2 separate regions of the Homo sapiens genome follow, and region 1 is linked to region 2. The links come from fine-mapping of genetic effects on gene expression. Tissue or cell type: whole blood. Region 2 holds a variant in brackets; the other region holds the start of a gene. All regions are shown on one strand. Distances are from middle to middle.

Evidence for each region. PIP is the estimated chance that this variant, and not a neighbour inherited with it, causes the effect.
Region 1: CEROX1 starts here. The variant in region 2 is fine-mapped to the expression of CEROX1 in whole blood (TOPMed, PIP above 0.99).

Annotation. Positions count from the first base shown.
Region 1 is chr16:977,238-985,237 of GRCh38, forward strand. It overlaps CEROX1 (cytoplasmic endogenous regulator of oxidative phosphorylation 1), which reads right to left and starts at 4,376. Exons shown (of 3, transcript NR_164343.1): 1 at 2,364-4,376; 2 at 1,788-1,873. It overlaps SOX8 (SRY-box transcription factor 8), which reads left to right and starts at 4,533. Exons shown (of 3, transcript NM_014587.5): 1 at 4,533-5,107; 2 at 6,491-6,723; 3 at 7,464-8,000. The coding sequence starts at 4,686. It also overlaps a transcript of LMF1 not described here.
Region 2 is chr16:1,006,924-1,014,923 of GRCh38, forward strand. No RefSeq gene overlaps it. Among named protein-coding and RNA genes, the nearest start is that of SOX8, 29 kb to the left of the region's middle. RefSeq lists an enhancer at 3,060-3,679 and a silencer at 7,433-7,634. The variant T/C (reference allele first, on the strand shown) is at 3,763.

The sequences.
Region 1 (8,000 bases), 30 kb before region 2:
CCAGCTGGCACTGCCAGCACCCGAGACAGTGAAGTACAGGGAGCTGCAACCCAGCCCAGAGCTCCAAGTGTGCGTGGCCAAGAAGCTGACTCCCGAAGGGGGTCTTGAGAGGGGTCCTGCGAACCCCTCCTCTCCCCTGGAGACCCGTCCGGGGGCGGGGCCTTTCCCAGCCTCTGCTCACAGCCTGCGCCGGCCCAGCCTGTAGTCACTCTGTCTCTGCCAGACCAGCCGTCATTAAAAGCACCAATTAATCTCCCAGGCCGTGCCAGGACGCTGCCAACTGCCCCACGGGTGCTCGGGATGCAGGGGCTGGGAGGCCCGGGCCAAGGCTGTGCACACACCGGCTGCCAGCGGGTTCACGCCCGCCGGGCCCTCCCTGTGCTTCTCAGAGGCCGCACAAAAGATGGGCTGCCTGCCGCAGGAGGAGGGCCGGGTTGGGGGTGGATGGAGGGGGACGGGGAGGACGGGCAGGGAGGGACGGAGGGGCACAGGGAAGGACGGAGAGGGAGGGACAGGGGCCTCTCCAGGGTGGCATTTCCCTGGGCAGCCCTGCTTCCTCCTCGTGCCCTGGGCCCAACACACACCACACACACACACACACCATACACATGCACACCACACATCACAAACACACCCACACCCTGCACACATACACCACACACTAAACACACACACCACACACATACCACACACATACATCATACACACGCACACACACCACACACCATACACACACCCCACCACACACATACACGCACACACACACACCACACACACACATCATACACACGCACACCACACATCACACACACACAAACACACCCACACCCTGCACACATACACCACACCAAACACACACGGACACACACACACCACACACCATACACACACCACACCACACACATACATCATACACACACACACACACCACACACCATACACGCACCCCACACACATACATCACACACATCATACACATACACACCACACACCATACACACCATACGCACTATACACGCACCATACACACTATACACGCACCACACACACCATAAACACACCCCATACATACATCCCATACACATATCACACATTACATACCATACAAACACACACCACACACACACATGAACACACGCGCCTCCGGGGTCGCCATCCCTAGGAGCCACGGGTAGGGTGGGGTGGTCTCTCATCTGGAAGCATCCCCCAGGCCATCCCTGCACCATCTCATGGGCAGCAGAGCCTGTCCACCCACATTCTTCTCTGCGGCTGTCCTTGGCGCCCAGGCCAGGGCATGTGGAGCTACAAATGTCATCTACACCAGCTCTCCACGCCCGGCACTCACGGCCCAGGGGACAGCCCTGGTCCAGATTCCCCCATCAGGGTATACTTGAAACGTACACTCCCCCTGAAACTGCAAGGCCCACTAGCAGGTGGTGAGGTCAGGGTGGGTGGGGCCATGCAGACACGGCGGAGCAGGCCCCAGCTGAAGGGGTGGGGCAGGGATGGGAGACAGGGGAGGAGGGTGTGTGTGCAGCTCCCCCCTGGATGAAGACATGGGCCCATCAGGTGGACTCAGAGGTGGCTCTGATGGCTGCCCCTCCACTCTCCACCCCCGGGTCCATCTCTTGTCATCAGACACTCTGCTCTAGCTTCCCCAGGGAACACGCTGGCCTCTCCCTGCAGGAGATCAGAAGCTTCAGGGCTCAGCTTAAATGACACCAAAGATGCTTTCCCAGACCATCCTTCCTGAAGTCCCCGCCTCTGAGAGGTGCTTTTGGAGTTACCTGCTGCCTGCCTCCCTCCACAAGGCCAGCGTCTGCAGGGCAGGAGCTGTGAGGGTGGCCCGGCTCCATCCTGTGTGGGAAAGTGCCTGGCACACAGCAAGTGCTTAATTAATACCTGGTGACCCTCAAGCCATCCCGACACCTCCCTCTCTGAAAGCTCCGTCCCGGCGTCCTCTCAGGCCTAGTGGCTCACACCCGCGGAGGACGAGGTCATTTTCCTGGGGACTTCAAGGTGGACCAGAGATGACTCTGGAAGGGGGGTTTGTGGGCACCACTCTGCATGGGGATCCTCACCCACATACCGCCCTCCCGGGAGTGCACCAACACGTCCTCAGCTGACTGGCCTAGGCCCCCACCACCCCGCCACAGAGACTCCCCACCTCCCCACCCCTCCTGTGGCAGCCTGCACGCCCAGCACCTCCCCTGGTGATCACTGCAACCTGGGGAAAGGAGCAGGCGCTGTTGGAGCCTGAGGCAGGGTCTCAGTTGCACAGACCACCGTGCCCCAGAGTCAGGGCCTGGATGCCACTCCCCAACCTCAGTCTCCCTTCCTCCAGGGGTGCTGGAGTTCCCCACCTGTGTCCCAGGGACTTGAAGCTTCCTTGGTGGATGGGGAGCCAGGAAGAGGCCACCCTGCCTGCTCGCAGACCTAATGCAACTGCTTTTCTTTGGCAAAGAGAGCTCTCCACGGAGGTCCTCACCCGGATGGCACTGTGAGCCCGAGTGGGCGATGTCTGCTCTCCCAGGGGCAGGGGGTGGAAGGTGGCACAGTTTGGACCGGACCCCCACCCTCACTGCTTCCACTTAAACCCCCACTTCTGCCTGCCTGCATCCCAGGCCTAACAGATGAGTTCCGCGGGCGCCCCAGGCGATGCTCTGAGGGCCACGGAAGGATGCGGGGACCCCGAGCGGAGGGCAGGGCCTCCAGGGGGAAGAGGCACTGCAGACGGAGGTGTGGGTCTTCCCAGGCAGGTGCCGGAGCCAAGCGAGATGGTGGGACGGGGAAGAGAGGGCAGGCCAGGCTGGCAGCCAGCTCTCCACCTACGATGCGTGGAGCCTCCCAACTCGCGCACTCCGTCTCCCCACCGCTGCTTCCTCTGACCTGGCTGCAGAGATGAGACCGCCCTCCGGGCAGGTGACACGGCCCTTGCTCTTCAGCCTGGAGGCCAATGCTTCCTCCAAAGGCCCTGGCCCCCTCAGCTCCGGGCCTGGCTCCGGTTGTTCCCAATGCAAAGCAGCAAGGGCCCCGGGGTCTGCGGACGGGGGCGGGCGGCCGCTGGGGGCACCAGCTCTCGGCCGGGCCAGAACAGGGGGTAGGAGGCGCGTCCTGTGCGGTCGGTGGCGGCCCCAGGTGGGTGCGGTGCGCTGGCAGGAAGCGGCAGCACGACCCCCGACTTTGCATCTGGACTTTTCTAGTAACGGACCAGCTCCTTCTGCCGACCGGGCCGGGGAGACCGCGTGGCTCAGTGGCTGCAGCGGCCACCGGCCCGGGCGTGGGGGCTTTGAGGGCACCGGCGCGGTAGGTCACCCGGGTTTCGCGGGCCGCAAGCTCGGAGACGCGCGTGTCCCGCGTTGGCTGCCTGACCCGGAATGGCGCAGCCCCTTCGCCTCCAGCGCGCTGGTTGAAAGGATCCGAGCCACCCTCGGGGACGGCCGGGCCGAGGCCACCTCGCGGGGCGGCCTTGGGCGGGGACCCGGACCCGCGGTTGGACGTTCGCCTCGGGGGGGGCAATGTCCCCTCTCCGACCCCGCGGTCCCCACCAGGGCGGCACACCCCGCCCTCTCCCCGCCTCCGCAGGCGCCCAGGGCTCACAGGCTCGGAGCGGCCTCCGCCTCTGCCGGACCACCCAGGGCCGCCCCGCCGGAGGGGCCTCCCCGCCCCCGAGCCCTAGGTCACGCCCGGAAGGCCCGGGGCCCCCGCGTCCGGCCACGCCATCCGCCCGGCGGCCCCAGGGACTCAGCGCCGGGGTCAGCGCAGGCCCCGCCCAGCGCTCCCGCCCCCTCCAGCTGGCCGGCCCCCGGGACCGCGCCCCCGCCCGCGCTCTCCACGCTCGCACTCGTATGGGCAGGGCGGCCCGGGGTCCCCCAGCTCCGAGCCGCGGCCCCTTGAAGCGCGTTACCTGGACGTGCGCTGTCCGCAGACTCTGGACGAGCTGGGCCTGGGCGCTGCGCGGCGGAACCGACCCTGTCCTGGACCGCAGGCAGCAGCTGACCCCGCGCCACCGGCCTGCGGGCGAGACCTCAGGCGCGAGACGGGCTGTGTGTGTGTGTGTGTGTGTGAGAGAGAGAGAGAGAGAGAGAGAGAGAGAGAGAGAGAGAGAGAGTGTGTGTGTGTGTGTGTGTGTGTGTGTGTGTGTGTGTGTGTGTCGGGGGAGGGGCCCGAGGACCCGCTTCCTAGCTGAGCGTCAGGACGGGGGGCGGACTCTCAGGAGCCGCGCGGCGCCCGCAGAGGAGAGGAAGCGCCGGAGACCCCCCTGCTCCCACCCGGCCTCCCTGCCCCGCTTCCTTTCCCGGGGCTCCAGAGAGGGGAGCTCCAGGCGTGGGGCGCCTGGCCCACGTGGTGCGGCGCCGGGCGGGGCAGGCGGGGGCGCGGCGAGAGCCGCGGAGCTTTCTTTATGGGTGGGGGGGCGGGGGCGGCCGGGCTCCGCCTCCGGGGGATCGGGGCGCGCTCCGCCAATGGGTAGCCGGGCGCGGGGCGGGGCCGCGGGGCCGCCGCTTAAAGAAACTTGTTGCGGGTCCCGCAGCGGGACCCGAGCCTCGGCGGCGGCGGCGGCGGCGGCAGGGGCGAGGGTCGGGGCCACCGCGCGGCGACCTCGGGTCCCGGAGCGACCGCAGGGCAGCCCCGGGCGCCGGCCCCGGTGCGCGTCTCCTGTGCGCGCCCCTCCGCGCGCGGCCCCGATGCTGGACATGAGCGAGGCCCGCTCCCAGCCGCCCTGCAGCCCGTCCGGCACCGCCAGCTCCATGTCGCACGTGGAGGACTCGGACTCGGACGCGCCGCCGTCTCCCGCCGGCTCCGAGGGCCTGGGCCGCGCGGGGGTCGCGGTGGGGGGCGCCCGGGGCGACCCGGCGGAGGCGGCGGACGAGCGCTTCCCGGCCTGCATCCGCGACGCCGTGTCGCAGGTGCTCAAGGGCTACGACTGGAGTCTGGTGCCCATGCCGGTGCGCGGCGGCGGCGGCGGCGCGCTCAAAGCCAAGCCGCATGTGAAGCGGCCCATGAACGCATTCATGGTGTGGGCGCAGGCGGCGCGCCGCAAGCTGGCCGACCAGTACCCGCACCTGCACAACGCCGAGCTCAGCAAGACGCTGGGCAAGCTGTGGCGGTGAGTGCCGGCGCCCCGGGGGCGGGGTTCGGGACCTTGGCCGCCCCTGGTCTCGGACTGCGAGCGGGGGCCTGGAGGGCGCAGAGCTCGCGGAGGTGGTGGCCACACGCAGGCTCCGGGCTCTGCACCCCGGGCGGGTGTCAGGGCGGGTCCCAGTGGAAAAACATCCTCTGGCCAGCCGGGGTCCGGCGCCAGCTATGGGAGTCGGGATCCGCGGAGGGCAGCGCCTGGGGTGTGCACCCTCGTGGCGGGTGCGCTCTGGAGCCAGTTCTCCTGGCGGGGAACACCCTGCGGAGGGCCATGGCTGGCACCCCGACGTGCCCTCCAGCCGTTGCGAGTGGCCCCAGCCCCGGGAGGCACGCCCGGCACGACAGCAAGTTGCATGCGGCTCTCTGGAGGTGCTCCCTCCTTAGAAAGGGCTCAGCTCCTCTAGCTCCTGGACCACCCATGGGGAGGGAGTGCGGCAGGCGGATGGGTGGGCAGCAGGTTTGCCTGCGAGTACCCTCCCCGCAGTTTCTCCCTCTCCTGGACACCCTCGGTCCGAAGCAGGGAGGGCAGGAGTGGAGATGACGGGGTGCGCCGTGTGCACGCCTTGGCGTGGTGGGGCCGGTCAGTTTTCCAGAAATTAGGACTGCAGAGTGAAGAACTTGTTGCTCAGGACAGGCCGCCCCCACCGAGTGTCCTCTGGTTGGGTTTCAAATGGTTCTCTTGGTTTGGGGCTCTGGTTCCCGTATCCTGCTCCTCACCTGGAAGAAGGGAGCTTGGAGCTTGCGTATTTGCACCTCCTGCCTTCTGTCTGGATCTAGGGCGCAGCCACGGGGCGCTGTGGACGGCAGGCCCCTGCTCCCCCAAGTCCTGCCGCACAGGCGGTTGGAGGTGAGCCTCGGGAAGAGTCCCAAGGAGTGTGTCCTGTGGCTCAGTGAGGACGGGCGCCTGGGCCCTGCCAGGGCTTCTGGGTGTCTGGGAATGGAGGGACAGCAGCCCAGCTGCCCGCCGAAGGCCGGCACCGTTCCCGGGAAGCCTCGCTTTTGTCCACCGCCGGCTGGGTCCTGCCCGCCTCCCCCGCCTCCCTTAGAAAGCCCCAGAGGGAGGGAACAGCAGGCCCGGAATAGGGGGAAATAGAAGGAGGAAGATGGGAGGCGTGGGGCTTGTTCTTCTTTGGCTGTCGTAAGCATACCAACCTTCCCAAACAGGCGCCGGCCGGTTCTCCCAGAGGAGTGTACTGCCTGGTGCCACGGGAGGCTCCGGAGCGCACGGCAGGCGGGTTTCCCTGGTCAGAGCCTCCTGGCCCCGGCCTCTGCTGCCGGTTCCCCCTGTGGTGTGTGCCTGCGCCGAGGGCACAGTGGGCGCCCTGGCCATCCCTGCCTCTGCCCTGTGCTGCAGCTTGCTGAGCGAGAGCGAGAAGCGGCCCTTCGTGGAGGAGGCAGAGCGCCTTCGCGTGCAGCACAAGAAGGACCACCCCGACTACAAGTACCAGCCACGGCGCAGGAAGAGCGCCAAAGCCGGCCACAGCGACTCCGACTCGGGCGCGGAGCTGGGACCCCACCCTGGCGGCGGTGCCGTGTACAAGGCTGAAGCAGGGCTTGGAGATGGGCACCACCATGGCGACCACACAGGTGGGCTCCAGGCCCCCCGCATATCTGAGGGTCCCTGTATGGGAGGCAGCTGTGGGGTTTCTGGCTGAGAAGGGTGCATGATGGTGGAGGGGGGCAGGCGCCCTCGAGAGAACCGGGCCTTCCCCGGGTTCCCTGAAAAAGCTCCCAAGGCCCCGGCCGCCCCTGTTTTTGGTGCACGAGGGACCTGCTTAGCCACCTTGAGTGCTGAGGGGCTGACAGCTTTGCTTGGCAGGGACCCCGAGAGGTGGTGTTTTCAGCAAGACTCAGTCCAATGCGGGCTCCTCTTCCCACACCGAGCTGCTGCCCACACGGCACTCAGCAGCCCCAGCTTCAGGGCCAGACTGACAGGGTGGAGTCCTGCCGGGGCCTCGGTCAGGCTGGCTGACGCCCGCCAGCCTCAGAGTGCTTGGCTGGCCCGGGGAGGAACAGGGTCTGTGTGGTCCCCCAGCGCCCTGTAAACCCCAGCTCTGGCCAGGCTGGGCCTGTCGGCTTCTTCCCCCCACCTTGGTCTCTGGGAGGGGCCTCGGGTCTTCTCATAGCACAGCGCTTCATGGAATTTTCTCGGCCGAGGAGTGAGGTCTAGGTCTGACTTTGCTGGAATTTCTGGGAAATGTAAAGAAACAAAAAGCCGTTGATCCCCCTGGCAGTTAGCGCGGGCGTCCCTCCCCTTCCAGCCTGGCCGGCCCCACCCGCCCCACAGAAGGGGCATTCATCCCTGAAGCCTGCTCTCCTGTCCCCAGGGCAGACCCACGGGCCGCCCACCCCGCCCACCACCCCCAAGACGGAGCTGCAGCAGGCGGGCGCCAAGCCGGAGCTGAAGCTGGAGGGACGCCGGCCGGTGGACAGCGGGCGCCAGAACATCGACTTCAGCAACGTGGACATCTCGGAGCTCAGCAGCGAGGTCATGGGCACCATGGACGCCTTCGACGTCCACGAGTTCGACCAGTACCTGCCCCTGGGCGGCCCCGCCCCACCCGAGCCGGGCCAGGCCTATGGGGGCGCCTACTTCCACGCCGGGGCGTCCCCCGTGTGGGCCCACAAGAGTGCCCCGTCGGCCTCCGCGTCGCCCACCGAGACGGGTCCCCCACGGCCGCACATCAAGACGGAGCAGCCGAGCCCCGGCCACTACGGCGACCAGCCCCGAGGCTCGCCCGACTACGGTTCCTGCAGCGGCCAGTCCAGCGCCACCCCGGCCGCCCCCGCCGGCCCCTTCGCCGGCTCACAGGGCGACTATGGCGACCTGCAGGCCTCCAGCTACTATGGTGCCTACCCTGGCT
Region 2 (8,000 bases):
CACCCTGTCCGCCCTGTCCACGGAAACCGTCACCCAAACTTGGAGCTGTGCAGGGGATCCGGCCACCCCGTCTGTCCTGTCCGCGGAAACCGTCGCCTGAGCTTGCTCCACGTTCCAGACCGGGGCAGCGGGTTCCCCAAGGCTCCATGGCCGTGGGATGTGAGGGCCTGGAGCCTTCCCGGAGCAGGATGGAGGGGAGCAAGGCGGGAGGGGTGGCGGACAGCGAGTCCAGTGCCTTCTTCTAGATGGGGACAGGCTTTGGTGCTGGGGGACAGAGGGCTGGGCCCTGGGATCGTGGCAAGACAGGCCATGGTGGCCAGCCCGCTAAGTCATGTCTCAGGGAACATGGCAGGAGTCCTCGTGCCTCTTGGGAGCAGACCTGCAAAGGCATTTATTTAGGGCTCTGGGGTGCGGCCCAGGGAGGCTGGAGGAGGCATTTCCCAGGTGGCAGCTCCTGTTCTCTCCTCCCCGAACACCAGGCATGGCCAAGGGGGATCCTGGTGCCTCTCTGCTCCGGTGGGTGTGAGTCACCAGGGCACACAGGCGAGGCCATGGGTGGTGGCTGTGCCTCGGTCTGGCCAGACGGGTCATGTCTCCACCAGGCGCCTGGAATAGCTCTCTGGGGCATCCAGCTCAGGGAAAAGGGTGTGGGCGCCCTGCAGGACGGACGTGGCTGGAGCTGCAGCAGCCCTGCCAGGTAACTGGGACCCAGCCAAGGGTCACACTCTCTGGCCCAGAAGCCAGGAGCCGACCGTGCCCCATCCCTCCCTATTACAGCCCCGCATCCTTCTCCCACTCCTGCTCGGCTGTGCCGTGCCCTTGAGGGGAACCTGGCCAGCTTGGTGCCAAGTGCTGTCACTCCCAGCAGGCAGCGTCCTTCCCATGGCCCAGGAGGGGTGGGGGTTCCTGGGATGCTCCCACCTGGGACTCCAGACTCTAGCAGGGATCCCTGCTGTCTGAACCCCTGTGGCTGACCCCACGGCCCCTGGCCCCGTTTCCTGGTACACCCCATCTCTGTCCCTGGTGGAGCTCCAGCCCTTCATTCCCCTCTCCTCATCACCAAGTCCCCGGGCCCAGGCTTCCCGGTTGGGCAGTGGAAAGCCAGGACATCCTTGGAGGACCCAGGAAGCCCCTTCAAGGGGGACCGTGATGGCTGAGGCCCCAGGACCTCGCGGGGTGATGGATGGGGGTGGACGTTGGTGCCAACCAGGCAGTCTCCAAGCTGGGCCGAGTTTTGGAAATGACCTCGTCTTCCAACCTTCCGCTTCACAGACGGGGCACAGAGGGCAGGGACCTGGGGCCCGTGGGAGGGGATGGCCTCTGAGAGTCTCCAGCGAGGACCCACGGGGCGGTGGCCATGATGAGGGCACCTGCGTTTGTGTCTGGAGCTGCCATACGAAGCACCACCAACTAGGAGGCTCAGGACAACAGAGAGCCCCTCACAGCTCTGGAGGCCAGAGGACCCCTCACAGCTCTGGGGGCCAGAGGGCCAAAGTCCAGCGGCCAGCAGGGCTGGTTTCTCCTGAGACAGGGAGGATCCTCCTGGCCTCTGCCAGCACCTGCTGCTGCCCGTGCTCCCTGGCTGGCGGCCACATCGCTCTGCCTGCGTGTTCGTGGGTCCTCCTGTGAGCCTCTCCTCTCCTCCTTATACGGGCACTCGGGCTAAGACCCACTGACCCCATCCTGGAACCAGTTACACCTGCCATGACGCTGTTTCCAAATAAAGGCACGTCCTGAGGCTCTGTGGACGTGAGTCCTGGGGGACACTGTTCAACCCACTACAGTGCCCAGTTGTAGTTCAGGAAGTTGAGGTCCAGAGAGATGGGGGAGCCCCCAGACTCATCCACACCAGAGACCTGTCACAGATGGGGACCCCAGACACTGGAGAGAGTGATCTGGTTTTAGGGGGTCACCCAGGGAGCTGGAGAACACAGAGAGCTGGAAAGAAGTGGTCAGGGCTGCTGCCTCAGGTGGGCGTCTGCCAAGGAGACTGTGGAGATCTCAGGGGTGGTGAGAGGCTGAGGGTCCATGAACCAGGCCGGATGGCAAGCCAGAATCGGGCTTTGAGAGGTGGCTTTGGGCTGTGATTTAAATAAAGGAAGGGGCCAGGTGCAGTGGCTCATGCTTGTCATCCCAGCACTCTGGGAGGCCGAGGCGGGTGGATCATATTAGGTCATGAGTTTGAGACCAGCCTGGCCAACGTGGCAAAACCCTGTGTCTACTAAAAGTACAAAAATTAGCCGGGTGTAGTGGTGGGCGCCTGTAATCCCAGCACTTTGGGAGGCCAAAGCAAGTGGATCTCCTGAGGGCAGGAGTTCGAGACCTGCTTGGCCAACATGGTAAAACCCCATCTCTACTAAAAATACAAAAATTAGCCAGGCGTGGTGGTGGGCGCCTGTAATCCCAGCTACTCGGGAGGCTGAGGCAGGAGAATCGGTATAAATAAATAAATAAATAAAGGAAGGGAGCATTCGGGGGAATGAGTCAGGGAGACTCCAGGCCTGGAGGATGGGGCAGGGGCCAGCACACCGGGGTCTGTGAGCAGTGGGGAGGCAGCCAGGGCAGGCCCTGCACGCAGCAGGTGCTCAGAGGATGCTAGCAGGAAGCACGTTGCTGAGAGGAGGGCGAAGTGTCAGCGTGGGGCTGGCAGAGGGAGACGCCAGCGAGGCAGGGCTGGTTGGCCCAGGAGCTGCCCCGGTGCCAGGAATTTGGGTGGGCAGGAGCCCGAGAGCTCCCATCTGCACCCACCTGTCAATCCCAGGCAGCCCCAGGCTCTGGGGTGGAAAAAGAGAGGAGCAGGTTGTTCCCAAGGGAGGCAAAGTGCCTCCAGGAGGCCGGGCGACCACACAGCCTGCAAGTAGCGGGGAGCCCGGCCCCAGTGCTGGCGGAGGAGCAAGTGTGGGGGCTCTGGGGTGCGATGGGGCGCTCGGAGTCCCCAGGAAGGGGCATGGGGCACAGGGATCCTGAAACTCAGTGTGTGAGGGAGAGGGGAGACAGGTCTGGAGGAGCCAGGGACACCAGGAGGGGCTGGGCGTGGGAGCCCTTCTAGCCCAGCCAGCGACGAAGGCCCACAGGGACCTAGGAGAAGAGGAGGTACCCCTCGTGTGGGGCGGGGGCCGGGCCGGCCTTGCACGTTGATGATGCTTGCAAGTGGGCCTCTGGGGCCGAGCAGGGCCCCCCGAGCAGTGCAGAAGCTATGCGGGGACCTCTGCAGGGTCCTGGGCTGCCTCTGTGCCTCTCAGCTGAGTGGGGGATCCAACGCTCCCAGGCTACTGTGTCCACTGTGGATGGAGGGGTCCGGCCTGAGGGGAGTGTGGGGGGCGTGGTGGGGGGAAAAGGCCACCAGGAAGCGCTGCTCTGTGGCAAGGGCGGCAGGGAGGGGGACACAGCTGCACAGGTGGGGAGCCTGGTGTCTGGTCCCAGCCCGCTTCTGCTTCCTTACCCGGCAGCTGCCCAGGCACAGCCGCAGGGAAGCCAGGCTGCATTCACGGCATCTCCGGGAGAGACAGGGCCCCTTTCCGGCCCCCTGTTCAGCAAGTCCTCCCCATGGCTGGGGGAGGGGCCAGGCGTCGCAGCGACCCGTCTGTGATTGTGAACCCATAAAAGTGGCTGGTGGGAGGCCGGGCAGAGGCAGCGGCGGGCTCGGAGGGGCCCTGAAGGACATGCCCCGTGAAAGTGGAGGGCCCAGGCGGCCACACGGTGGTGACCCCATCGTGCAAAGTACTGCCCATTCCCAAGCGGAAGAATGTGTGGAAACGTGTG[T/C]GGCTGTGACACGGAACCCAGCGGCAGCCGCTGGGCAGGAGGGGCTGCAGCGTGTGGCCCCCGGGTGGCTCCAACCAAACGGGCCAAGCTGAGGCTGTTCCCACTCGGGGGCCGCCCACTGTGTGTCCACATGGCCGTGGCCCCATCCCGGGACAGGGCTGATCAGGTTGCCCTGCACTGTTGTGGCTTCGGTGTCTGTGGCAAAATGAGACCCCCACCTCTGAGAGACGTGTGGCAGGCGGGGCAGGCGGCCTCAGTCCTGTGAGTGCCTTGCCACAGGCTTTTGGCTTTGCTGGTCTCCAGGCACATGGAGAGACAGACGCTGGCTGAGTGCGTCCTAGGCTGGGTTCCAGGGTGGTCCCAGGAGCGCCGGCAGTGAGCAGTTCAGGGCTGTGGGTGCGGGGCTTGGTCCAGCAGGCAGGAGCAGCCCCGCCCGGGCAAGCCTCCCTGGAGGGAGACAGAGGAGACACAGGGCAGAGACGCAGGGCAGAGACATAGGGCAGAGACACAGCGCAGAGCGGCCAGGGCAGAGACGTAGGACAGAGACGCAGCGCAGAGCGGCCAGGGCAGAGATGCAGGGCAGAGACACAGCGTAGAGCGGCCAGGGCAGAGACGCAGGGCAGAGACGCAGGGCAGAGACACAGGGCAGAGACGCAGGGCAAAGCGGCAGGGCAGAGACGCAGGGCAAAGCGGCAGGGCAGAGACGCAGGGCAAAGCGGCAGGGCAGAGACGCAGGGCAAAGCGGCAGGGCAGAGACGCAGGGCAAAGCGGCAGGGCAGAGACGTAGGGCAGAGCGGCAGGGCAGAGACACAGGGCAGAGCGGCAGGGCAGAGATGCAGGGCAGAGCGGCCAGGGGCCCAGAAGCTGGAAGAGGCGGGAAGGACCCTCACCTGGGGCTTCCGGAGGGAGCACAGCTCTGCTCACACCTCGATTTTAGGCCTGTCTCCAGGCTGCGGGAGAGGACATCGCTGCAGTTTTCAGCTGTGCCATTGGTGGTACTCAGAGCCGGCATTCCCTTCCTGCAGCAGCTGGCCTCGGCGACCCTCACTCCACTATGGCAGGCGTCCCCTGCCTGTCTCCGCACCGTGCCTCAGCCCTGCTCTGGTCCCACAAGGGCTGCAGCTGCCCCGACTCTCCCAGGGCAGAGAGACAAACGGGGGAGCAGAAAGCAGAGTGACCGGGAATGTGCCTGGCGGTCAGGTGGAAGGCCACAGACCCCCGAGGAAGCAGACGTCGTGTGTGGCCTGCCTTGGCGTCCAGGAGACCATCTCCTCCGGTGGGGTCAGACCACAGAGGGGCCCTCTCTGTCTCTGCCCCTTTCCCTGGTGTGAGCAGGAGCACCCGGGCGACAGGGGCGCCTCTTCCTTGCTGCCCCACCCAGAGGGCAGCACACAGCTCAGTGCAGGAGGGACAGAGACCTTCAGGCCCGAATTACCTCCGGCCAACACTCAGCCTGCCCGCAGGACCTCGGGCCACCGTGGTCCTGTCCGCCCGATATTCTTCCAAGTCACCCTCAGCTTCGAGTCTACTTTGAAAGGAGACTCCCCATGGCAGGTTTGAGACACTGCCGGGGTCCCTTCCTGTGCACATTGGAAGAGACGTGGAGGCTCCGGCAGAACGATCTGAGCACCTGATTCCGCACTGGGGCCGCAGCGCGGGCTCCCTTTCAGGGCGTTGGGGGCCACGCTTTGCCCCTCTGTTTAGTAACACTCAGGGGACCCTGAAGGCAGGCAGGCAGGGTCCGCGGGATGGGGAGTCTCACAGCAGCCCACACCCCAGCATCTTGCTGGGAGGAGCTGGGGAGCTGGGTAAATCGGGGAAAATCCATCTCCAGGGCTCCCCTGAGGCTGTCCCCATTCCCAGGAAGGCAGGAATTACCCCACCCTCGGCCAGCCTCTGCCTGCCTTTCCCAAGATGATTCCAGAGCCCAGCAGCTCCTCTGGGACCCACATGGACTAGGCAGGCGGCTGGAGTGCTGTGGAGCACGGGGAAGGGCCATGAGAGCCTGGGACCCTCAGGCTCAGGACACCATCCTGGTGGCTGCTGATGGGGGTCAGCATTCTGCCCCTGCATCCTGCCCCTCTGCCCAGGGTCCGGAGGACTCACCGGGCTGTGCCCCCACCTGTGTGCCCTCCCCATGTCAAAGAGCAGGCGGGGGCGCCTGACAGGGTGAGGCCGAGGGTCCAACCCTCAGCCCCATACTGGCCGCAGGTGGTTCCTGAAACTTGTGGGACTGGAACCTCCTGTTGGCTGAGACCCCGGGGGGTGGTTGCAGAGGTGGGGCTGGTCTGGGAGTAAGCAGGGCAGGACACCTGCGGGGTTGCTTGGCCTCAGGTGGGCAGAGGCTGTTGGGGGCCTGGAGAGCCTGGTGTGACCTGGGGGCAGGCTGGGGTGGGGGATGAAACCCACAGGTGCCCCCAGTCAGATGCACACCCAGGACACACATGCGCACACGCAGGACACACGTGTGCACACCCAGGACACATGCGTGCACACCCAGGACACATGCACGCACACCCAGGACACGTGCACACACAGGACACACGTGTGTGCACCCAGGACACACGAGTGCACACATAGGACACACACGTGCACACCCAGGACACACGAGTGCACACCCAGGACACACCCGTGCACATGGAGGACACACCCATGCACACACAGGACACACATGTGCACACACAGGACACACACGTGTACCACTGTGCAGCCCTGCGCCCCCTCACTGCGTCCTGTTGCAGGCCTGTGTTGCTGTTCCATGTGCTGCCCTCTGCCTGCACGCAGGTGCCCATCGCCAGCGGGGCTGGGATCTTCCTGTGGTGCTCCTTGGCCCCTGCGTTCTGCCCGCCTAAGTGGCCCCTCCGGCTGGTCCTGAGCATCTGCTTGCTCAGCTCTGTCCTGGGCTGGGCTGGTGGCATTGAGGAGGAGCTGGCTGGGCGCTGGGTGAGGCAGGACCAACCCAGGACAGGTGTCCAGCTCTTGACAGGAGCTCCTGGCCCAGGCTGGTGGCTGGGGAGGGGCTGTAGCTGCCAGGGCTGGGAGCGCCTCCTCCACCTGCATCGGACCGTGCTCCGGAGGCCACGGTGCTGTGGAGGGTGGTGGCGGATCTTGGGCAGGCAGAGGCTGCCAGGGGGCCTGGGCGGGGCCTGGGGTGACCCAGGGGCAGGCCAGTGGGCTGTGGAGACTGGTGGTGCTCCAGAGGCCACAGTGCTCTGGGCTTAGAGCAGCTGCACCCGGAGGCATGCCCTGGACGTGGGTCCAACTCTGCGTCATGCAGCTGGGGGGCAATGGACGCGCCCCCCTTCCTGGCCTCGGTGTCCTCCCTGTAGCTGGGATGGCTGAGAGGAGAGGGGAGAGAGAATTGGTTTAGGGGACCTCGCCCAGGAAAGCTCATGATCCACTCTGTACCCACTACGGGGAGGGAGCCGAGTTGTGGGCCCAGGACACCCCTTCTGGCTGGGAGGAAACGGTGGAGGGGCCTGGAATTCCTCCAGGCCTGGGGGTTGCTGGGAGCCCTGATTTACGGCCCCAGCGCCTGCAGCCCCCCTCCTGCCCTGACAGTTCTCGTTGCAGCCTCCAGGTAGGAGGTGTTGGCGGGGCTGGGGCTGGGGTGGGTTTCCAGGTCCCCTCTGCCCATCCTAGGCTCAGTCCTGTGAGCTGAGTGGGTGAGCTGTGTCTGTGGGGCTGGGCTCTGTGTGTGGGCTTCTGAGGGGTGGCCCCGGGCCCCTGTGAGTCTCGGTCTTCCAGTCCGTGGAGTGGGGTGGACTTGTTCTCTGATGCTGGCCGAGGGGGCCTCCTACAGTGGGGGCTGTGGCCTCCATGGGTCCACCTGCCCATCTGTCTGGCCAGCCTGCCCTGCTGGAGGACTCAGTGCCCGAGGCCGGCTTCCTTGTTCACCAAAGGGAGAACAGAGCCATGCCTCCCTCCCAGCCCTGAGCAGGGCCTGTGCCGGGAGGGCCAGTTCCCCTGGCCCAGAGTCGTCTCCCTGTCCCAGCCAGGCTGGAGGTGAGTGGGACGAAGGGGTCCCCAGGGCAGGTGCTGCCGGTGAGGAGGAGAGTGGCTTCTCCGAGGTTGCAGCGAAGGACGGCCAGGTCTGGAGAGGATGTGGCCTGGCCAGTCCTGACGCCGGAGGTGACGTGGCGAGGGCTGGAGGTGGCTCCTCCTGGGAGGCTGCCCCGGGACAGAGGTCTGGGCTGCGTGTGTTGGGCCTGGCCCACTCTCCGTGGCCAGATGCCACC